Homo sapiens: one gene and its partners. The protein of the gene in region 1 interacts with the protein of each later gene in a pairwise test. Each region holds a gene or a part of one and is shown on either strand. Other genes may lie near its edges.

Region 1 (7,922 bases):
AGGTGCTGCACATGTCGCTCTCACAGTGCAGAGAAACCATAGTCATTTTCAAGGCTCCTAAGGAGAGCCATTTATTTTATTCATCACCACCATCTATAGTTAAAGAAACATGACTGTAGGCTGCAGTACAATTCATCCTATTTTGAAAATCATGAGTTTTGTGACAAAAGAACCACAAATGTTTATGTAACAGATTGTTGTCAGTAATGCATGTCAAAGTGACAGCTAAATTCACATGATCGATCTGCATGTGGCCCCATACACACGCGTGACTCACCTTTGTGCTAGTGGATTTCAGAAGTTTTTGATGTCTCTGCATGTATATTCTTGTAAGAAATCATTTTTGGAACAGGTTTTGTGAGGAAGGTGGTAGCACCTGATGAAGCCTCCTCACTTTATAACCTAAATTGGGCTAAGTCTCATAGTTATGGGAGAAAAGAACACTATAATTAGAACACTAACATTGGAAGTAAAAACGTTGTTTATAAGTAATTACTTGTAAAATTTTAAGTGAAATGTTTTTCTTCAGGCATGTCTTCAGGCTTTTGAAAAGTTCACAAATAAGAAAACCTGTCCTCTCTGTAGAAAGAACCAGTATCAAACCCGAGTGATACACGATGGGGCCCGCCTGTTCAGAATCAAGTGTGTGACCAGGTGAGGACGCCAGGCCCGTTTGGCGCTAAGCAGACACAGATCAGGCTATGACAACTAACTTGTTTTTTGAATAGTGGGATTTTATCTCTCTTCTTGGCCACCATAATTTCCCCAGGGCCTTGTACAGCACAGGGCTTATAACAACTACTGAAGTATTGGTTGACATAGAGTCATCATAAATTAGTCATTTTCAAATATCTGTGTTTTAGAATCCAAGCCTACTGGAGAGGATGTGTTGTTAGAAAGTGGTACAGAAACCTGAGGAAAACAGTACCTCCCACAGATGCCAAGTTAAGAAAAAAATTCTTTGAAAAAAAGGTAGGTAAAGATCATTATGTTCTCCAGATATGGTCTCCGTGCGGGTGGTTCACTTGGGGTCAGGAAGGCTAACAGAGGTGGTAAAACTTTGAGACTTACTTCACTTTGAGGGCTTTTTAAAAATGGGTGAGATGCTGCTAAAAATCCTGTTTAACTTTAGTTGGCTTTCCAACCTAGATGTTCAAATACTTCTAGACTTTCTTTTCTAGTTAAATCATAAAATTAGGTTAAATCAAAGCAACTTCTGTTTGGCCATTTTGTGCTAATTGTTTAAATAAACTTATCTCTTCAGACACAAGACTGGAAACCAGCTTAATTTTTCCCATCTCCTGGGCTATATGTAAATGAAGACATCTGCTGCACATCTCATAGTAATGAAAATAGAAGCTGCCTATAAAAATAAAGCCCCCACATGCTACCATTGTATTGAGTACCTCGTGGGGTCATCACAATGAGCTTTAGAGCTAACTTCCATGTCTACCCTTCCTCTTAACCACTATTTATGCTTTAGTTTTACTTTTGGGGGACTTATTTAACAATTTCCCATTCCTTGTCCCCATATGAAAAGGACAGTCCTACCCCATCAGCCTGTGGCTTCAGGCAAACAGCAGCAGCTCCGAGGCTGTCATATGAAAGCCATCACTTCTTCCTGGCAGTGTTGGCCTGAGAAGAGCTGTAGCATTTATAATGGCCCAGCACACAGTAGGTGCTGGAAATTCTGTATTTATTATCACTATTAACTCCTTTCCTAGAATATGGAGATGAGTTACTGTGTGTTCTGTTCCTGAGAGCAGTGTCTCTGATCTTCAGAGATCATTCGTCTCGGGTGTTCATTCTCAATTTGGTAAAGGACCGCCATGCACGATTGCGTCATCCTTCCTTTACATTCTTTCCAGTTTTTTATCTTCAGTCGTTGACAGTCAGTTGTGTTCTCTGGGCTACTCTTAGTAATTTCTAATATGTCATAGTAGGTTGTCTCTTAAATCAGAAGTGATTTTTTGTCACCTCTTATACAATTTTAATTACAGATTTGATAGTCATTTTACCTTATATATATAAATATTTTTCATGTGCACACATCATTTTATAAGAACTCTTGAAGATAAAGGCCCACTGAAAGTGTTGGTGGTCTCAGCCCATTGAACTGGACGAGAACTGGCCCAGGTTGCTGGAAACAAGTGAAGCAACCATTACAATGTGCCTTGTGTTATCTTGTAAAGTAGCCAGTGAAGGTTAAGTTTCAGCGTTCAGTGCTCAGGTGTTCAAATGCTGCAGCCTTCAGCTTCATGGAAAAAGGAAACGAAAAATAACAAAAAGCAAGTGACCAAGAGCAGTCGGGGCAGGGAGACCTGATCAAACAAGTTCCTCAGTTTCTAATTCAGTGTCTCCCACAGAGAGATGGAACTTTACAAGGCAGATTCATAGCTCTGTCCCACTGGACGTTGGGTCCGCTGCCCTGTGGCCATCCCACCTCCCCACAAATACTGTTTTTTGTTTTATCCTTGGTTCATCCCAACTGCTGCCTCCTCGTCCTGAGCCCTCATCGCTCGGAACGCCCCGCTCTGATCCCCGTGTCTGCTTTTCTGAGCACACTCTTGCCCGCCCCCGCATGTCCTGCCCGTTCCTACTGGTTCCCTCTGCCTTGCTTAAAATGTGCCAGTTTTTCAAAGCCTAGCTGAAGCTTTCTTCCAATTTCTTTGGTCTTCTCTAAACCTCTATTGTATGTTTAAACAACACCATCTAAGAGATCAAGAAGAACAGAAGTATGAATGCTATTCTAGCTTGTATATTACAAATGTGGTTTTTCCTTTGGGGCTTTTAAGATGATCTCAGATGATTTCAATAGCAAATTCACTTAAGCTGAATATCTGTGAAGAAACTGATAAGTAAAACTGATTTTTTATTTTTTGCAGGGGTGGTAGTTGAGAACAAACTGTATAAGTTGTTTTTTATTTTTATTTAGAGACAGGGTTTCGTTATATTGCCCAGGCTGGCCTCAAATTCCTGGGCTGAAGCGAACCTCCCACCTCAGCCTCCCAGTTAGCTGGGATTATAGGCAAGAGCCATAGGCTAGGGCAGTGGCTTTCAGACTTTTCCTCAACCACAATAAGAAATATCTTCTAAGCAATGTTGACAGAAAAACCAAACTCTGTAAAGTATTTTAAAGAAGTTGACTCTGACTGATACGAGTGACTGCAGGCCAGGAAACCCACTCTCAAGGAGTCCTGAGAAAGTGCACCCCGGGCGGTTGGATTACGGTTTGGTTTCATACATTTTAGGGAGGCAGGAGTTACAGGCAAAGACATCAGTCAGTACATGGAAGTTATACATTGGTTTGGCCAGAAAGGCGTGATATCTTGAAGTGGGGGTTTACAGATTGTAGGTGGATTCAGAGATTCTTTATTTGCAGTTGGTTAAAGGAGTAGGGCTCTATCTAAATACTGGAGTCAGCAGAAGGGAATCTCTAAGTTGAGGATGCTGCGCAGCAAGACTGATGGCCTGCGGCATGACTGTCCCTTGCCGGGCATGGCCTTAGGTCTTGTTTGTACTTTGGTTTCTTACTGCCTCAGACTGCCGTCAGCCTTATCACTTTTAAAGGAATACTGGTCACTTCAGCTTAAACTCCAGCAAGGAGTGGGCATAAGGGGCATCTCACCTTTCTTCCCATCGTGGCCAGAAATTCCATTGTTAAGGTTTTCCTAGGGCCCCCTTGGCCAAGAGGGGGTTCGTTCTGTTGCTGGGGGCCTTAGGATTTTTTTTTTTTTTTGAGACGGAGTCTCGCTCAGCTGCCCAGGCTGGAGTGCAGTGGCACGATCTTGGCTCACTGCAACCATCGTTTCCCGAGTTCAAGCAATTCTCCTATCTCAACCTCTTGAGTAGCTGGGATTACAGGCACCCGCCATCATGCCCAGCTAATTTTTGTATTTTTTAGTAGACACAGGGATTCCCCATGTTGGCCAGGCAGGTCCTGAACTCCCAGCTTCAGGTGATCTGCCTGCCTTGGCCTCCCAAAGTGCTGGGATTACAGGTGAGAGCCACCATGGCCTGGCCAGGATTTTATTTTTAGCTTACAGCAATGACCCACCACATGTATACAGTTAACAGAAACGTAACTTTCGCAAAGCAAAATCTGCTTTCACTGCAGGCACCACACTGTGTTCATTTTTATTCCACTTCGTTTCCAAAGTGCTGGGCCTACTACATTAATGTTATGGGTCACTGATGGGTTGTAGATATCAGCAGTCTGCATTATCAATAACTGCCACCTTAAACATAATACAAGTGACCGTGTTATCTGCTGAACTGTAATCTTACCTCATTCAAGTTTCAAGTGTGGGGGTGGGGAGGAACAGATGTATACATATACGCACACACACTCAGATCATAGTGAGGTTATACTCATAATTTGTTACATGAATAGGGATCCTATCATGTAACTCTTGCTCACTTAACTCATTTGGCCATAAACACTTGAAATCTGTAAACTCAGATCTCATGTTAAATAAATGAAGATTGAACTTACTGTAAAATAGTGTATTAGCAGTAGGTAGTAGGTGCCTATATGGGTCCATGCCCTATGTGCTTGTATGCCTGTATGGGTAGAACTCAACAGCTGTCCTTTATAATAAAGACCACTTCTTAATCATTTACCAAATGACCTCACCATTTGATGCTTTTTTTCTACCTTTCCAACTTAATAAACTCATTCTGTGAGCGATGGGAATCCTCTGAGAAATGTTAATCTACAATTTTAGAATGCCCTGCATATTTAATGGAATCCAAAAGGTTACTGAACTAGGTTATTGAATTTCACATTACCCAGGTGTGATGGTTAATTTATGTGTCAACTTGACTGGGCTAAGGGATGCTCAGGTTATCTGGTTAAACATTATTGCTGGGTGTGCCTGTGGGTATTTCCAGATGAGCTGAGCATTTGAATCAGTGGACTCAGTAAAGTGAATTGCGTGTGTACACAGGCACAGTCTCACTCTCTTGCGTGTGCTTTCTCTCTGTCTCTGCCTGACTGCTTGACCTGGGACGTTGGTTTTCTGTAGATACACAGAAAGGGAGGTGTACCCATATAAATAGAAATCATTTTAAAATTACAAAATTGTTGTATACAACTTTATGCAATAGAAGTGAAAATATAATTGAAATTACTTCCTGTAAAAATAGCAAACGTGGAAAGAAATTTAAAGTATGAAATGACTGAAAAAAATTATATGAGCATCTCCGTTTTTACTGAAAAGATATTAAATAAAATTTAACAGCCATTCTTTTTTTTTTTTTTTTTTGAGGCACAGTCTCGCTCTGTCACCCAGGCTGGAGTGCAGTGGCGCGATCTCGGCACACTGCAACCTCCGCCTCCCAGGTTCAGGCCATTCTCCTGCCTCAGCCTCCCAAGTAGCTGGGACTACAGGCGCCCACCACCATGCCCGGCTAATTGTAGAGATGAGGTTTCACCATGTTAGCCAGGATGGTCTCGATCTCCTGATCTCGTGATCCACCAGCCTCGGCCTCCCAAAGTGCTGGGATTACAGGCGTGAGCCACTGCACCCGGCCTTAACAGCCATTCTTAATAATGAAAGACACTAGAACTAGAATGAAATTTCCTTGTCACATTAAAAACTATGTGTCAAATACTAAAAACACATTGTTTTAGAGAGTAAAAAACCATAAAGAAAACTAGGTTACTTACTGTCATCACACTTGAGCCAATCCTTGCCAATAACACATGAAAACAAAATATATGTGTGTGCACATATGTGTATATGTTATGCATATTATATAAATCCACACATGTATATTACAATTTTACATTATATTTATATTAAAATAAGCCAAACAAGGAATGTACCACACTGATAAGAAAAAATTTTTTCTGATGGAATAAAAGGCTTGAATAAAATGACAGACATTTTACACTGGAATGAGTAAAAATGTCCACTTACTTTATATAAATTTAATGTAGTTTCTAACTCCCAAAGGAGTAGGATTGGCTGTGCATTTAGGACTTTACAGGTTAACTCTAAAGTTTATCTAAAGAGGTATGAAGAGCTAATAATTTTTTTAAAAGACAGATTGATGAGATAGAACAGCCTTGTTAGATATCAAAATATATAAATTTGGCAACTAAGATTCTTGGGGAATAATAGACAAACAATGAAACAGTAGAAAGTCACACATCTCAGCATACAGGAAATTTTAGTGTACTAAAGAAGGTATTTCAGACCAGTGGAGAAAAAAATTATTTGAGAAAAATCAATTGGGAAATTGAGTTCATTCATCTGAAGGGGGTTAAAGAACACTGCTTTATGCGTTACTGCCAAGAACATTCCACACGGATTACACTCTCAAATACATTTTAATGGATACATGAAATTAATGGAGTCAAATAGCTTCCTGGGTGCCTGCTCTCTGCCTGTGCTTTGTTAGTCAGGGGAGATAACGAGGGAACAGACAAAACACCACAATCCTAGCAGAACGTGTGCAGCTCAGAGCGGGGAGAGAGCCTGGATCTCAGATTCTGCTCCAGTGCACACGGCACATTGCGTGATTGCCACCGTGGCTTTTACAACGTTCTGAAGGCTATAGAAAAACATTGCAAGGGCCGGGCGCGGTGGCTCACGCCTGTAATCCCAGCACTTTGGGAGGCTGAGGCGGGGGCATCACGTGAGGTCGGGAGTTCGAGACCAGCCTGACCAACATGGAGAAACCCCTTCTCTACTAAAAATACAATATTAGCCGGGCGTGGTGGCGCACGCCTGTAATCCCAGCTACTCAGGAGGCTGAGGCAGGAGAATAGCTTGCACCCGGGAGGCAGAGGTTGCAGTGAGCCAAGATCGTGCCATTGCACTCCAGCCTGGGCGACAAGAGTCAAACTCCATCCAAAAAAAAAAGAAAGAAAAAGAAAAACACTGCAAGAGCACACTAGGTGGTAATTTGTCCTGGTTGACAAGGCAAAATGATCATCTTGATTTACATGTTTGGTACAAGTGGAGAATTTCCTTGTATATATTATATATTAATGTTTAGGGGTTGCATCTATTTTATTGTTCTTTTTTAAAGATGTAATCAATGAGTAGAATATTTTACAGCTCAAAACTGGAAGAGCTTAATAATAAATGTGAGACAAATAATACACGGACCCTATCTTAGTAAAGAAAGTCATCATCATCCTCAGATGCCTTTAGAAAAGACTCTTTTCATCTAGCATAATAGTATACTATTAACAAGTTTATCTAGTTTAATCTGGGCATAACATGTGAAAATGTCATTTTTCCAATGATAGAAACAGAATTGTATTGTTTTCACCAAGAAACAAACATATGTTTCAGTAAAAAAGAGAAAATTGAACTGCTTTCCTTTAAGTACCTATAAAAATTTTAACGTAAGATTATAAGTAAAATGAGGCTTGTTAAGCTTCTAGAAATCAGATTAAGATATTTAAAATAAAAACATAACTGTGGGTCTCAGGTTCTCAACTCAGGCTTCATTTTCTCCTTACATTTGTCCTTTATATTTCCAAAAGTTCTTCAGAACTAAAAATGTGTACTAAATAAGGACCAGCTTCAGATTCATCGGTGTCTATAGGTTTCCTAGTAATACGGCCATTAAAAATAAATTCCAAAGCCAGAATGAACAATGACTTTATCAAGGCCCCTCTGAGTGAGAGACTAGCTTTGTAATGTAGTGAAATTCCAGGCATGCCAGGTTTTTCTGCGTAGTATGGGAAGCCACCCCTGAGTCTGTTCACATGCGTTCACCTCATCACCCCTTCCATACTTCTATGTGTATGCAACTCTGAGGTTTGAATTTTAGAAACTGGAAATCTTACAAAGCAAAATGTGTGGCAATTAATAAGATTGAATATGGCAAATTCTTAATGATCTGGGGAACAACAGTTTTTAAGTCTGGGAATAACATGTGAAACCAGCAGCTACATTTCT
Region 2 (7,922 bases), on another chromosome or scaffold:
CCTTTAGTCTTTTTCTATATAAATATGTCATTTGTTGGGGTTAGGTTTGTAGGGGATGTGTGTGTGCACATGTATGTGTGTCTGGCTTTTTTTCCTACAAAATTGGAATCAGGCCAGGCGTGGTGGCTCACACCTGTAATCCCAGCAGTTTGGGAGGCCGAGGCAGCGGATCACCTGAGGTCAGGAGTTTGATACCAGCCTGACCAACATGGTGAAACCCCATCTCTACTAAAAATACAAAAGTAGCCAGGCGTGGTGGCACATGCCTGTAATCCCAGCTGTTCGGGAGGCTGAGGCAGGAGAATTGCTTGAACCTGGGAGGCGGAGGTTGCAGCGAGCCAAGATTGTGCCACTGCACTCCAGCCTGGGCAACAAGAGCGAAACTCCATCTCAAAAAAAAAAATAAAACAAAAGAAAAGAAAAAAAAATTGGGATCAAATTCTGTGTCCTGCTTTGTATGCCAATCTTCTTTTTGTGTGTGTGTGAGATACAGGCTCACTCCATCACCCAGGCTGGAACGCAATGGCGCGATCTTGGCTCATTGCAACCTCCGCCTCCCGGGTTCAAATGGTTCTCATACCTCAGCTTTCCAAGTAGCTGGGATTACAGGCACGTGCCACCACACCCAGCTAATTTTTGTATTTTTGGTAGAGACAGGGTTTTACCATGTTGGCCAGGCTGGTCTCGAACTCCTGACATCAAGTGATCTGCCCACTTCAGCCTCCCAAAGTGCTAGGATTACAGGCGTGAGCCACCGAACCTGGCCTGTACTCCAATATTTTAAACATAATAACAGAAAGTGAGAATCCCCCTTTACCCCGAGACCCCAGATATAATCCGCAAGTAGGTGTGGAAAGCACCTCCAAGTATTCCAGCCCATCGCGGGCGTTAACTGATTTCACCACTTCCAGGCTAACTGGGGATCCAGGGCCCTGCCCCACAGAACAGAGATCCAGTTTCTCCAACAAAGCAATGGCAAGAATAAAAGGGGAAAGGGACTGGTTATGGCTTAGAGGTCAGCAAACCTCCTCTGTAAAAGGCCAGATCGTAAATATTTTAGGCTTTCTGGGTCATATGGTCTCTGTCTCAATTACTCAATTTCACGCTTGAAGCACTGTTTATACCCTTTTCTGTATTGAGACAGCCTGTAATCACAGACGTGTGATTACCATAAAAATAGCAACCATAGACAATGCATCAACAAATAGGCATCAACTGAGCACGGGTGTGAGTTCACTCCTGTGATCCCAGCACTTTGGGAGGCCAAGGTGGGAGGACTGCTTAAGCCCAGGAGTTCAAGATCAGCCCAGACAACATGGCAAGACCTATCTCTTAAAATTTTTTTCTTTTTTGAGACGGAGTCTCGCTCTCTTGCCCAGGCTGGAGTGCAGTGGCACGATCTCGGCTCACTGCAACCTCTGCCTCCCAGGTTCAAGCAATTCTCCTGCCTCAGCCTCCTGAGTAGCTGGGATTACAGGTGTGTACCACCACACCCGGCTAATTTTTTTGTATTTTTAGTAGAGACGGGGTTTCACCATGTTGGCCAGGGTGGTCTCAAGCTTCTGACCTTGTGATCCACCCGCCTCGGCCTCCCAAAGTGCTGGGATTACAGGCATGAGCCACTGCGCCCGGCAAAAAAATTTTTTTTTAATTAGGCAGGTGTGGTGGAGTACACCTGGCATCCCAGCTACTTGGGAGGCTGAGGTGGGAGGATCACTTGAGCCCAGGAGTTGGAGGCTGCTTTGAGTTATGATCGTGCCACTGCACTCCAGCCTGAGCACCAGAGAGAGACCTTGCCTCAAAAAAAAAAAAAAAATTTAAAAAATAAATGGTTGGGAGGTTGAGGCGGGTGGATCACCTGAGGTCAGGAATTCCAGACCAGCCTGGCTAACATAGTGAAACCCCATCTCTACTAAAGATACAAAAATTAGCCAGGCCCCGTGGTGGTGGGTGCCTGTAATCCCAGCTACTCAGGAGGCTGAGGCAAGAGAATCACTTGAACTGGGGAGGCGGAGGTGGCAATGAGCCGAAATCACGCCATTGCACTCCAGCCTGGGCGACAAGAGCAAGACTCCGTGTAAAAAAAAAATTCTTTTAAAAGGGTATAGCTGTGTCTCAGAAAAACTTCATTTATAGATACAAATTTGAATTTCATATAAATTTCCCATGTCATATTATTTTTTTTCAACCACTTAAAAATGTAAAAACCAACCAGGTGCCGTGGCTCATGCCTGTAATCCCAGCACTTTGGGAGGCTGAGGCAGGCCGACTGCTTGAGCCCAGGAGTTCAAGACCAGCCTGGGCAATATAGTGAGACCTCATCTCTACAAAAAATAAAAATAAAAAATTAGCCAGTGTGCTGGCTTATACTAGTAGTCCCAGCTACTTGAAAGGCTGAGGCAGCAGAATCACTTGAGCCCAGGTGTCTGAGGCTACAGGGAGCTTTAAACTTATTTTGTAGAGTTGGGGTCTCACTATGTTGCCCAGGCTGGTCTCTAACCCCTGGGCTCAAGCAATCCTCCCTCCTCAGCCTCCTAAAGTGGTGGGATCACACCACTGTACTCCAGCCTGGGTGAAAGAGTGAGGCTCTGTCTCTATTATTTAAAAAACGACGACGACAACAAAACAGCTGGAGTTGCATAGTGAAGTGTTTACAGACAAAAGGTTTCGATGTCAAGGGTTTGCTCTCAATGCTCTAGGAAAAAAAGGAAAAGTATTTTGGGGGAATAGATGATTCAAGATTGAAAAAATGTTGAGACCTAATTAAGCTGAATAATGTTTTATCAAAGTCTATTATACATTCCTTTCTACTTGTGAATGTATTTGAACTTTTCTTAGATGGAGTTTCACTCTTCTTACCCAGGCCGGAGTGCAATGGTGCGATCTCAGCTCACACAACCTCCGCCTCCTGGGTTCAAGTGATTCTCCTCCCTCAGCCTCCTGAGTAGCCGGAATTACAGGCATGCGCCACCACGACCGGCTAATTTTGTATTTTTAGTAGAGATGAGGTTTCACCATGTTGGTCAGGTTGGTCTCAAACTCCTGACCTCAGGTGATCCGCCTGCCTCGGCCTCCCAAAGTGCTGGGATTACAGGCGTGAGCCACCACGCCTGGCCGAACATTTCTCATTTTATTTCATTGTTTTTTGAGACAAGGTCTCACTCTGTCACCCAGGCTGGCATACAGTGGTGCAATCTTGGCTCAATGCAACCTCTGCCTCCCAGGCTCAAGCGATCCTCCCACCTCAGCCTCCTGAGTAGCTGAGACTATAGGTGTGAGCCACCATGCTTAGCTAATTTTTGCATTTTTTTGTAGAGACAGGGTTTACCATGTTGACCAGGCTGGTCTCAAAGTCCTGGGCTTCAGCGATCTACCCACCTTGCCCTCCCAATGTGCTGAGAGTATTTGAACATTTTTATCACAAAAAGTTATTATTTTCTTCCTTTTTTGAGACAGGGTCTCGCTATATTGCCCAAGCTGGTCTCAAATTCTTGGCCTGAAGCAATCCTCCTAATTCAGTCTCCAGAGTAGCTGGGATTACAAGCACATGCCACCATTCCTGGCCAAAGTTATTTTTTTAAAAAAGTGTAGGCCGGGACTATAAAAACCAACCAGGTGCAGTGACTCCATCTCAAAAAAAAAAAGTGTTAAGAACATCTGTGAATCAAGCTGGCAGATTTCTTGCCTCATGTGTCCAAAGAAATATATGTAAAAATGACTGCTGCAGCTGCATTTGTCAGAGGAAAAGGCTAGAAATAATCTCCATGGCTGTCAACAGAGGAAAAGGTTAAGGAAACACGAAATGGAATAGTACACAGCCATGCAAAAGAATGAGCCAGCTCTGGGGCTGATGGAGAAATATTTCTTTTTTTTTTTTTTTTTGAGAAAGAGTCCTGCTCTTCTACCCAGGCTGGAGTGTAGTGGCGTGATCTTGGCTCACTGCAAGTTCCGCCTCCCGGGTTCACACCATTCTCTTGCCTCAGCCTCCCGAGAAGCTGGGACTACCGGCGCCCACCACCACGCCTGGCTAATTTTTTTGTATTTTTAGTAGAGATGGAGTTTCACAGTGTTAGCCAGGATGTTCTTGATCTCCTGACCTCATGATCCGCCCTCTTCGGCCTCCCAAAGTGCTGGGATTACAAGCGTGAGCCACTGCGCCCGGCAGAGAAATATTTCTAGGATATATTATTTAGTAGAAAAGTTCAAAGTGCAGGAAAGGGTATATACAGTAGGGAACATCTGTGTAAAACAAAAAAGTAGCCAATGTGTTGTCAATGCCTGTGGGTGCTCAGCATATTTCTGGAAAGAGATACAAGAATCAGAGAAGCTGGGAGACCAGAACTGCAGGTGGGGAGTGGGTTATTGCCTTAGTCTCTTCCTGTGCCTTCTGAATTTTGCACATAGGGTGCTGGCTTGGATGGGGCTTATGGGAAAGCTGGGGTTAAAAACTGATTGCAAGCATCAGTTTCTTTCTTTCCTTTTTTTTTTTTTCTTTTGAGACAGAGTCTCCCCCCATTGCCCAGGCTGGAGTGCAGTGGCGTGATATCGGCTCACTGCAGCCTCCACCTCTCAGGTTCAAGTGATTCTTCTGCCTCAGCCTCCCAAGTAGCTGGGATTACAGGCGTCTGTCACCATGCCCGGCTAATTTTTGTGCATTTTTAGTAGAGACGGGGTTTTGCCATGTTGGCCAGGCTGGTCTAGAACTCCTGGCCTCAGGTGATCTGCCTGTCTCAGCCTCCCAAAGTGCTGGGATTTCAGGCATGAGCCACCACGCCCGGCCACAAATAAAGTTTTATTGGCAAACAGTCACACCCATTCATTTATGCATTGTCTGTGGCTGCTGTCATGCAGAGTTGGGTAGTTGCCATAGAGACTGTATGGCCAAAAATATTTACTATCTGGCCCTTTAAGAAAAGGTTTGCTGACTCCTGGACTAAAGAAAGCAGTCGTATCCACTATTTTGCTAGAACAAAACAGCCAGGCACGGTGGCTCACGCCTGTAATCCCAACACTTCGGGAGGCTGAGGCAGGTGGATCACCTGTCAGGGGTTCAAGACCAGCCTGGCCAACATGGCAAAACCCCATCTCTACTGAAAATACAAAAATGAGTCAGGCATGCTGCGCACACCTGTAATCCTGGATACTCAGGAGGCTGAGGAAGGAGAATCACTTGAATGCAGGAGGTAGAGGTTGCAGTGAGCCAAGATCGCACCACTGCACTCTAGCCTGGGCAACAGAGGGAGACTCCATCTCAAACAAAAACAAAAACAAACCATAAAGAACATCCCCTTGGGCTGGTGTGGTGGCTCATGCCTGCAATCCTAGCACTTTGGGAGGCTGAGGAGGGAGGATCACTTAAGGTCAGGAGTTCGAGGCCAGCCTGGGAAACATAGCGAGACCCTATCTCCACGCAAAATTAAAAAAAAAGGCCAGGCATGGTGCCTCACGCTTGTAATCCCAGCACTTTGGGAGGCCAAGGCGGGCAGATCACGAGGTCAGGAGATGGAGACCATCCTGGCTAACATGGTGAAACCCCATCTTTACTAAAAATATAAAAAATTAGCTGGGCATGTGGCACGCGCCAGTAGTACCAGCTACTTGGGAGGCTGAAGCAGGAGAATTGCTTGAACCTGGGAGGTGGAGGCTGCAGTGAGCCAATACGGCACCACTGCACTCCAGTCTGGGTGACAGAGTGAGACTCCAACTCAAAAAAATAAAATAAACCTGGGAAGCGGAGCTTGCAGTGAGCCGAGATCGCGCCACTGCACTTCAGCCTGGGCGACAGAGCGAGACTCCGTCTCAAAAAAATAAAAAATAAAAAAATAAAGAACATCCCCATCCTTTTCCATGGCTGCATAGTATTCCACCATGTGAATATACTTTATGTCCACTTGGTTCTCCAACTGTGAGACACCTGGGGGGGATCTGTAGGTTTCACTCCTACTAATACTACTACTACACTCCACACACCATATCCCACATGGGTGAGGATATCTCTAGGATCAATTTCCAGAAATGGTTTTGCTGGGTTCCCAGGGGATAGGCAGTGGGGCAGTGGGAGTTCCTGCGCGTGGATCCCCTGCAATTAGACGGGACATGTGGCATACACATGGGTATCTTCCTGGGCAGATCCTCAAAGGATCAGTGACTGGGTTGGACCCTGAATCAGAGGATGGGGATGAGGGTTTGGTTCTGGGAGACCAGGGCCTGTGGCCCAGGCTGGGCACTAACCAAGGTCGTCGGCGAGCCTCCGGCCATCCTCAGCAGGCACAACACGTTCGTCCTCCAGGTCACACTTGTTCCCCACCAGGATGACCTGGGCGTTGTCCCAGGAGTAGGTCTTGATTTGCGTGGCCCTGCAGAGTTACCAGTGGTGAGCCATGAGCCGGGGGGGTTAGGGGTCAGAGGAGAGGGCAAAGATCAGGGGTCCATGATCAGCAAGCACTCACCAGTCCTGCACAGCGGCAAAGGATTCCTGATTGGCGATGTCATACATGAGCAGGAAGCCCATGGCTCCCCGGTAGTAGGCCGTGGTGATGGTGCGGTAGCGCTCCTGGCCCGCTGTGTCCTGGACAAATGGCAGTGGCAGTTGGCTGGGAACTACCTGTTTCCCAGTCCACCCCTGTCTTAGAGGGGCACTGCCCTGTACTCATAGCCCCAGCCTTACGGGGGAGACACAGACTTGCTTGTACAACCTCTGGTCTGATGGAGAATACACAGATCCTGCCCTCACAACCCCAGTCTGATGGGGGAGGCATGGATTCATTACCAAGGGATCTCCCCAGTCTGATGAGGGAGAGACTTGGGCTTGCCCTTGAGGGGTTCCAAGTCTCAGGGGTCAGTGGCCTCTCACAGACTTATGAGCCCCTTTGACCTTGTCTCTAAGAACCAACTGGGCCAGATGGTACCATCCTGACAGGACACCTTGGTACTCTTGCTACCACGATGATTGTTACCAGCGGCTAAGTTGGGAGAGGGAGCTAGGTGTGACTCTGCAGACCAGGTCGGTCCAATGGGGGTCCCAGGGTCCCCTCTAAGATGGTACCCAAAACTCTTCCCTGTTGGTCACCAGCACCTGGGACCTTTCTTTTTTCTTTCTTTCTTTTTTTAATAGATGGGGTCTTGCCCTGTCACCCATGATGGAATGCAGCGGTGCAATCATAGCTCACTGCAGCCTCGAACTCCTGGGCTCAAGCAATCCTCTTGCCTCAGCCTCCTGAATAGCTGAGACTACAGGCGGGAGCTACCATGCTGGGCTAATGTTTAAAGTTTTTTTTAGAGATGAGATCTCGCTATGTTGTCCAGGCTGGTCTGGAACCGCTGGGCTCAAGTGATGCTCCACCTCAGCCTCCCAAAGTGTTGGGATTACAGGCATAAGCCACCACGCTAGTGTCACAAGTACTTCAAACATGTCTTAGGTTAGTATCATCTCCGCAATCAGACCCCCAGGAATAATACTGTTTCCCGCCAGGCACAGTATTACAGTGGCTCATGCCTGTAATCCCAGCGCTTTGGGAGGCCGAGGTGGGCGGATCACGAGGTCAGGAGTTCGAGACCAGCCTGGCCAACATGGTGAAACCCCATCTCTATTAAAAGTATAAAAAATTAGCCGGGTGTGGTGGCGTGCACCTGTAATCCCAGCTACTCGGGAGACTGAGGCAGAAGAATTGCTTGAACCCAGGAGACGGAGGTTGCAGTGAGCCAACATTGTGCCATTGTGCTCCAGCCTGGGCGACAGAGCAAGACTCTGTCTCGAGAGAAAAAAAAAAAAAAAAGGTCGAGGCAGGAGAATCGCTTGAACCCAGGAGATGGAGGTTGCAGTGAGCCGAGATCCCGCCACTGCCCTCCAGCCTGGGCAACAGAGTGAGACTCCGTCTCAAAAAAAAAAAAAGAACCCTCCAATGAACTTTCCTGGAGGGACC
Region 3 (7,922 bases), on another chromosome or scaffold:
TTTTTTTTTGAGATGGAGTCTCACCCCATCACCCAGGCTGGAGTGCAGTGGCAGGATCTTGGCTCACTACAACCTCCGCCTCACAGGTTCAAGCAATTCTCCCACCTGAGCCTCCCCAGTAGCTGGGACTACAGGCGCATGCCACCATGCCCAGCTAATTTTTCTATTATTCGTGAAGATGGGGTTTCACCATGTTGGCCAGACTGGTCTCGAACTCGACCTTGTGATCTGCCCACCTGGGCCTCCCAAAGTGCTGAGATTACAAGCGTGAGCCACTACAACCGACTGTAACTTCATTAATAAAGGCGCTGAGGGAAAAAGAAGAGGCCAGGCATGGTGGCTCATGCCTGTAATCTCAGCACTTTGGGAGGCTGAGGCGGGCAAATCACCTGAGGTCTGCAGTTTGAGACTAGCCTGGCCAACATGGTAAAACCCCATCTCTACTAAAAATACAAAAAATTAGCCAGACGTGGTGGCAGGCACCTGTAATCCCAGCTACTCGGGAGGCTGAGGCAGGAGAACTGCTTGAACCCAGGTGTCAAAGGTTGCAGTGAGCTGAGATCGGGCCATTGCACTCCAGCCTGAGCAACAAGAGCAAGACTCCGTCTCAGAAAAAAAAAAAAAAAAGAGATAATCGACAGAGACCCACAAATTAGCACACATAAGGCAACAAAGCTCTGAGCCAGGATAGTGGTAGAGAAAATTAAGTCTGAATTTTTTGATTTTGTACTTAAAAACTCTCTATTCTTAGCTTTCCTTAATATTTCCTACGTATGTCCCAGGTTTGGATAGTGTCTGCCACCCTTAGTATGTTCCTTGCTGTGCCTTAAAAGATGTAGGAGTTAAGTGCCATGTACGCTGACAGCATTTAAATTATATTCCCAATTTGTTTTTTATTGAGGGGAGGAGGATGACAATGACTGAGCCAAACAAAAGGGAGACATTAATTCAATAAACAATTCAAAGCAGAGGTATGGAATTGAGAAACAGATGACAACTATTAATATTACTACATACTATCATGACACTTCAGTAGCCAAAATGGGCCAAAATTCAGGGAACTTCAAAAGTTCAGTGTTCAGGCTGGGCACAGTGGCTCACGCCTGTAATCCCAGAACTCTGGGAGGCAGAGGCAGGCAGATCACCAGGTCAGGAGTTCGAGACCAGCCTGACCAACATGGTGAAACCCTGTCTCTACTAAAACTATAAAAATCAGCCAGATGGGGTGGTGTGCGCCAGTAATCCCAGCTACTCAGGAGGCTGAGGCCAGAGACTCGCTTGAACCAGGGAGGCAGAGGTTGCAATGAGCCAAGATCGCGCCACTGCACTCCAGCCTGGGCAACAGAGCGAGGCTCTGTCTCAAAGAAAAAAAAAAATTTTCAGTGTTCAGTGTTTTTAACCTCCAGCCCACAAACCTTTAACGCCCAGCAAACTCTCCTCATACTTTGATCCAGCTTAAAAGTCTGTGAAATCTCTTAGCAAAAATAATCACTCTCTCCCGTGTTCACACAGCACTTTATAAATTAAACTATTACAACACTTATCACACTATAGTACAATTGCCTATAAGCCTTACCCAACACTAGACTGTTTCTCAAAAGTAGGAATGGCTGGGCGCGATGGCTCACGCCTGTAATCCCAGCACTTTGGGAAGCCCAGGAGGGCGGATCACCTGAGGTCAGGAGTTCAAGACCAGCCTGACATGGAGAAACCCCGTCTCTACTAAAAATACAAAATTAGCCAGGCATGGTGGCGCATGCCTGTAATCCCAGCTACTCGGGAGGCTGAGACAGGAGAATCACTTGAACCTGGGAGGCGGAGGTTGCAGGGAGCTGAGATTGCGCCACTGCACTCCAGCCTGGGCAACAAGAGCAAGACTCCATCTCAAAAAGAAAAAAAAAAAACTACTTTATTCTTTGCCCCCTCAGTGCCCATGAACATGCATCTGCCCCATGACAGATTATTTAAATGTAAATAATTATCAAGCACCTTACTTAGAACTCTATTAATTAGAGATTTTTCATAAATTAAAAATTAGTAAGCCAATGTCTAAAATAAGACTGTATTCCATTCGGCCAGGCAGGGTGGCTCATGCCTGTAATCCCAGCACTCTGGGAGGCCGAGGCAGGTGGATCACCTAAGGTCAGGAGTTCGAGACCAGTCTGGCCAAGATGGTGAAACCCTGTCTCTACTTTAAAAAAAAAAAAAAAAAAAAAAAAAAGCCGGGTGTGCCTGCAATCCCAGCTACTCGGGAGGCTGAGGCTGGAGAATCGCTTGAACCTGGGAAGCAGAGGTTGCAGCGAGCTGAGATTGCGCCACTGCACTCCAGCCTGGGCGATGGAGCAAAACTCCATCTCAAAAAAAAAAAAAAAGAGTATGTTCCATAAAAGATAAATGTAAGCTGAATCTAAATGATCTAAGTGACTCAAGAGTATCTAGTTATCTAAAATATCCTTTTCAATAAAATTGCCTGAAAATACATTTTATCCGAATGATTCTAGAGATAATGGAAACACTTAAAAGACTGTCTCCTCTAGTACTCAGACTTCAAAGACTGAACCATATTTTATTTTTATTTATTTCATAGGATTTTCATCTGTTGTCCAGGCTGGAGTGCATTTCCTGGGATTATAAGCGAGCCACCACGCTGCTTCTGAATCATACTAAAAAAAAAAAAAACAAAAAAAAAAAAACTAAGGCAAAGAGGTTAAGTGACTTGTCCAAAGACACTCAACCTTTCTTCTATCATATACATCTTCATCAACAGAATGAAACAACATACCATAATAAAACCACTTGGTTTTGTTTCCTCCTTAGTAAAACAAAATACGTTTTTAAAAAAATAAATAAAACTGTTTAAGTTGTGATGACAAAGGAATGCATACTTTCCACTGGCTCTAGTTAACCCCAGCTCTCCTCCCAAGGTGAAAGATCAAGTACAGGCTACTTACTCATCACTACATCTTTTCTCACTCCATTCATGTTTGATTTGTACCAGGTGGCAAGGGTGTGGATAGCAACGTAGTTGGCTTCAAATTCACAATTTGGATTAGTGAGGACTCCTTTTAACCGTGGGATGAGTTCTGTGGATCTTCCTTTGTACGGGCCCAGAAACAGTCTCTTCTGATCATAATCATTAGCATGAATGTTATCCCAGATTACTGGAGCTCTCTTAATAATCTTAGAAACCTCTTCGATGGACTCTACTGGAATTTCTTTAGAAACAACTTTGGGACCTAGAAATAACGACAACCGTTCGTTAAAAGAATCATGGTTCTTGGCTAGACGCATTGGCTCATAACTGTAATCCCAGCACTCTGGGAGGCAGAGGTGGGCAGATCATTTGAGCCCAGGAGTTCGGACCAGCCTGGGCAACACAGCGAGACCCTATCTTTTTATTTTAAATTAAAAAATATATTTAAAAAAAAGAATCATGGTTCTTTAAAATATACTGCATATATAACTTTTTATTGTTTTCCTTACGTGTACTTTTTTTTTTTTTTTTTTGAGACAGAGTCTCGCTGTGTCGCCCAGGCTGGAGTACAGTGGTGTGATCTCGGCTCACTGTAAGCTCCGCCTCCTGGATTCACACCATTCTCCTGCTTCAGCCTCCTGAGTAGCTGGGACTACAGGCGCCCTCCACCACGCCTGGCTAATTTTTTGTATTTTTTAGTAGAGATGGGGTTTCACTGTGTTAGCCAGGATGGTCTCGATCTCCTCACCCTGTGATCCGCCTGCCTCGGCCTCCCAAAGTGCTGGGATTACAGGCGTGAGCCACTGCGCCTGGCCCCTTACATGTACATTTTATAACAACGTTTCTTTTTCTGAGACAGGGTCTCCTCTGTTACCCAGGCTGAAGTGCAATGGAGTAATCATGGCTCACTGCAGCCTTGAGCTCCTGAGCTCAAGCAATCCTCTCACCTCAGCCTCCCAAGTAGCTGGGACTACAGGTGTGCCCCACCATGTCACAGTAATTTAAAATTTTTTTGTACAGATAAGGGCTTGCTATGTTGCCCAGGCTAATCTTAAACTCCTGGCCTCAAGCGATCCTCCTACCTCAACTCAAGCCTCCCACAGCACTGGGATTACAGGCACGAACCAATGCACCCAGCCACAATTTTTCTTTTGAAAACACAACATGTCTTTTACTGAGCTTTATTTTTTTCGTTTTATAAAATAGAAGAGTTTCCTAACGCTGCTTAAGGATGGGATCAATACCTTTTAGCCCAATTCCCTATAAATCTTTATTATTTATTAACTGAATTTTTTTTGAGACAGGGTCTCATTCTGTTGCTCAGGCTGGAGTGCAGTGGCATGATCACAGCTCACTGCAGCCTCTACCTCCCGGGCTCAAGTGATCCTTCCACCTCAGCCCCCTAAGTAGCTGGGACTACAGGTGTGCACCAGCCCACCTGGCTAAGTTTTTTATTTTTTCTACAGTCTCTCTATGTTGTCTAAGCTGGTCTTGAACTCCTGGGGGCTTCCACCTCAGGCTCCCCACTCAGGCTCCCCAACCATGATAGATGTTTTTTCATATTAAGAGAATATGTAAACTTTGTAAAAGAAAGCGTATTTTAACAAGTTCTCTGGGCCAGGTGCAGTGGGTCACATGTGTAATCCCAGCACTTTGGGAGGCCGAAGTGGGCAGATCACCTGAGGTCGGGAGTTTGAGACCAGCCTGGCTAACATGGAGAAACCCCGTCTCTACTAGAAATACAAAAATTAGCTGGGTGTGGTGGCGTGTGCCTGTAATCCCAGCTACTTGGGAGGCTGAGTCAGGAGAATTGCTTGAACCCGGGAGGCAGAGTTTGCAGGGAGCTGAGATTGTGCCACTGCACTCCAGCCTGGGCAACAAGAGCAATGCTCTGTCTCAAAAAAAAAAAAAAAAAAGGCCAGGCGTGGTGGCTCACGCCTGTAATCCCAGCACTTTGGGAGGCCAAGGCGGGTGGATCACGAGGTCAGGAGATCGAGACCATCCTGGCTAACATGGTGAAACCCTGTCTCTACTAAAAATACAAAAAATTAGCCAGGCGTGGTGGCGGGTGCCTGTAGTCCCAGCTACTCGGGAGGCTGAGGCAGGAGAATGGTGTGAACCTGGGAGGCGGAGCGTGCAGTGAGCCGAGATCATGCCACTGGACTCCATCCTGGGCGACAGAGTGAGACTCCGTCTCAAAAAAAAAAGTATTCAATTAACAAGAACAAGCAATTTCTGCAAGTCCTACTTAATTCAACTTTGACTGTATAAATCTTAAAAGACTTACCTGTCCAAAGCACTTCAATTCCAGGTAGAAGCTTTTCACCCACAGTCCTTAAATATGGAGACTGAGACACATTTGGATAACAGAAAGTGCCACAGTATTCTAAATGTAGGGAGAAAAGTAAAAAAGTCAGAATTAAAATGCTCATGGGTTTTCTCTTTGTTTGTTTGTTTTCTTTGAGACGGAGTCTCACTCTTGATGCCCAGGCTAGAGTGCAGTGGCACGATCTCGGCTCACTGCAACCTCTGCCTCCTGGGCTCAAGCAATTCTCCTGCCTCAGCCTCCCAAGCAGCTGGGACTACAGGCGCACGCCGCCACGCCCGGCTAATTTTTTTTTGTATTTTAGTAGAGATGGGGTTTCACCATGCTGCCCAGGTTGGTCGCAAACTCCTGAGCTCAGGCAATCCGCCCGCCTTGGCCTCCCAAAAGGCCCATGGGTTTTTGAATGTGGAAAAAATGTCTGCCAATTCTAAATTATTTTCATCTAAATGATAAAAGGCCTCCTACAAGGAACTAAAGTGGGCAGTTCATTTAAGAAATTCATAAAATCTGGTATTTTTCCTCCAACAGTAGTACAGATCAATTCTTACGATACTACAGTTACTAGAAATACAAGTTTACTAAAAAAACAAGAACTGCAGCATTTTCTACAGAATTCTGAATTGCCTACTTTTCTCAGTTACAATTAAACGCCAAACAGAATGAATTGATAATATCATAATAGAACTAATACAAGAATATGCCAATGGCAGCTGGGCACAGTGGCTCACACCTGCAATCCCAGCATTTTGGGAGGCTGAAGCGGGTGGATCACTTGAGCCCAAGAGTTCGACACTAGCCTGGGCAATATGGCGAAACCCCGTCTCTACCAAAAATATAAAAATTAGCCAGTTTTATAGCCCGGTCTCTAAATAAATAATACAAACTTAAAAGTAAAATTTAAAAAAAATTTTTTTAAAGGCATATACCAATGGCTATTAGTACTCAACTGCAACTTAAACTGTAACTTGCAGCTAATTAATTCCCAGTATAATCTTAAAACTTCTGGGTACTAATGTAGTACTCAACTAAAATAAGGTTCTCGGCTCACAATACACACAAAGAAAGTTAAATAATTTAATCTAAAATTCTTCCTGAACAAGGAAGTGTGGGGAAAACTTCCTGTAAGTTGAATTTTGAGAAGCAACTAAGAGACTAAAATATTTTCAATGAAAGAAACCAGAGGGGCAAAAAGAAAGGAAAACGGGAAAAACTGTTAAGCTTTCTATGCTGACTACTTGAAATAAGAGCCCAGATGGGAGTGGGAGGAGTGCAAAAAGGGACAGATATGCATGGGCAGAAAAAGGGGACAAGTAGGAGGAAATGAGAAGTGACTAAGGTAAAAGCAATGTAATTTGGTTTTTCTCCAGTTTTCATTTCAATACTATCCCTCTTTTAATATTGACAATGTAATGTTCATATACTTCCAGTACTTAAAAATACATAAAAATCTTTTGCCTAGTCAGTTGTCATTTATTAGTTCCTAAAATTTCTCCAATTTAGGATCTTGAAAAATGTCTTCTAAAAAAAGATTCCTACTTTTACACACCAAAGGAGGAGGGAAGTGGAGAGAGAATGGGGCCCATGGTCCTTTATAAGTTATATATTCCAAGAAGACTAGTTAAATGTAAAGCCATTATATACAATACCTGTGGGACAGAAGAGGAAAGTTTCTGGCTCTCCTAGGTACTGATAGATTTCATTTGTGATGGAGACTTGGGCATGAGCAAAAGAACTGAATACCTCTTTGTCTGCTGCACACATATTATGGTCTATATCATCAAAAAGCAAAGCAAATGATCTGCACCCAAACTGAGAAACCTAGGAGAAAAAAAAAAAAAAGAATCAAGAGTAAAAAAATTAAGAATTCCAAACATTACAGCGTTAACAGTTATACTTAAAATCCAGTATTTTCCTTACTAGAATGTTCAAAGACAGATTTATTGTTTTTACATTTTCAATTAAAAAATCGTAAGTTAAACAGTTTTGGGACCCATTTCTCATTTGGGTTTGAATGCACTACAGGCTGAGTATTCCTTATCTGAAATGCTTGGGACCAAAAATGTTTTGGATTTTCATTTTTGTTTTTTCCTGGATTTTGGAATATCTGTATTATATTCAGCATCCCTAACCTGAAAATCCAAAATCTGAAATGCTCCAATGAGCATTTCCTTTGAATTTTATGGAGCTCAAAGAGTTTCATATTTTGGAACATTTCAGATTTCTGAATTAGGGATACTCAACTTATATGACAATATGATCCAACAAAGTGGCCTAGCCTCCTAGTCCTCATGGGCTGCTGCTGATTGTAGAAGACCCAACAAAGTCAGAAAAATACAGAAACATGAGTAAGTAACCTTAAGACATGAAAAAGCCAGGCTGTGTCCTAGTCCCAAAAGGCACACTGATCCCTTTGCAGATAAACCTAACCAGGTATGAATCAGAAAGAATAGAATTTTATCAAATAGTAAAATAACTTCATTCATGAAAATTTCAACTGCCTTAAATTTTTTACCAGACATTTTAATGCCACCCATATAAATCTTTGCCTAAAGAAATAAGACATGTATATAGAAAAACCAGCAAACTAAAATAACAGAAAAATGGGGCCGGGCGCAGTGGCTC

What was found.
Region 2: the proteins of RNF32 (region 1) and RAB3D interact in a two-hybrid assay, tested with the Homo sapiens proteins (one study listed by BioGRID).
Region 3: the proteins of RNF32 (region 1) and OGA interact in a two-hybrid assay, tested with the Homo sapiens proteins (one study listed by BioGRID and IntAct).

The regions. Positions count from the first base shown.
Region 1 is NC_000007.14:156,657,599-156,665,520, forward strand, and holds part of RNF32 (RING finger protein 32), read left to right. Parts: exon of another isoform or gene 1-93; intron 94-277; exon of another isoform or gene 278-529; coding exon 530-654; exon of another isoform or gene 655-863; coding exon 864-972; exon of another isoform or gene 973-1,264; coding exon of another isoform or gene 1,265-1,288; exon of another isoform or gene 1,289-2,752; intron 2,753-7,922. UniProt on the Homo sapiens protein: May play a role in sperm formation.
Region 2 is NC_000019.10:11,329,216-11,337,137, forward strand, and holds part of RAB3D (ras-related protein Rab-3D), read right to left. Parts: intron 6,569-7,922; coding exon 6,450-6,568; intron 6,357-6,449; coding exon 6,232-6,356; intron 1-6,231. UniProt on the Homo sapiens protein: The small GTPases Rab are key regulators of intracellular membrane trafficking, from the formation of transport vesicles to their fusion with membranes.
Region 3 is NC_000010.11:101,800,784-101,808,705, forward strand, and holds part of OGA (protein O-GlcNAcase), read right to left. Parts: intron 7,119-7,922; coding exon 6,947-7,118; intron 5,361-6,946; coding exon 5,262-5,360; intron 3,237-5,261; coding exon 2,952-3,236; intron 1-2,951.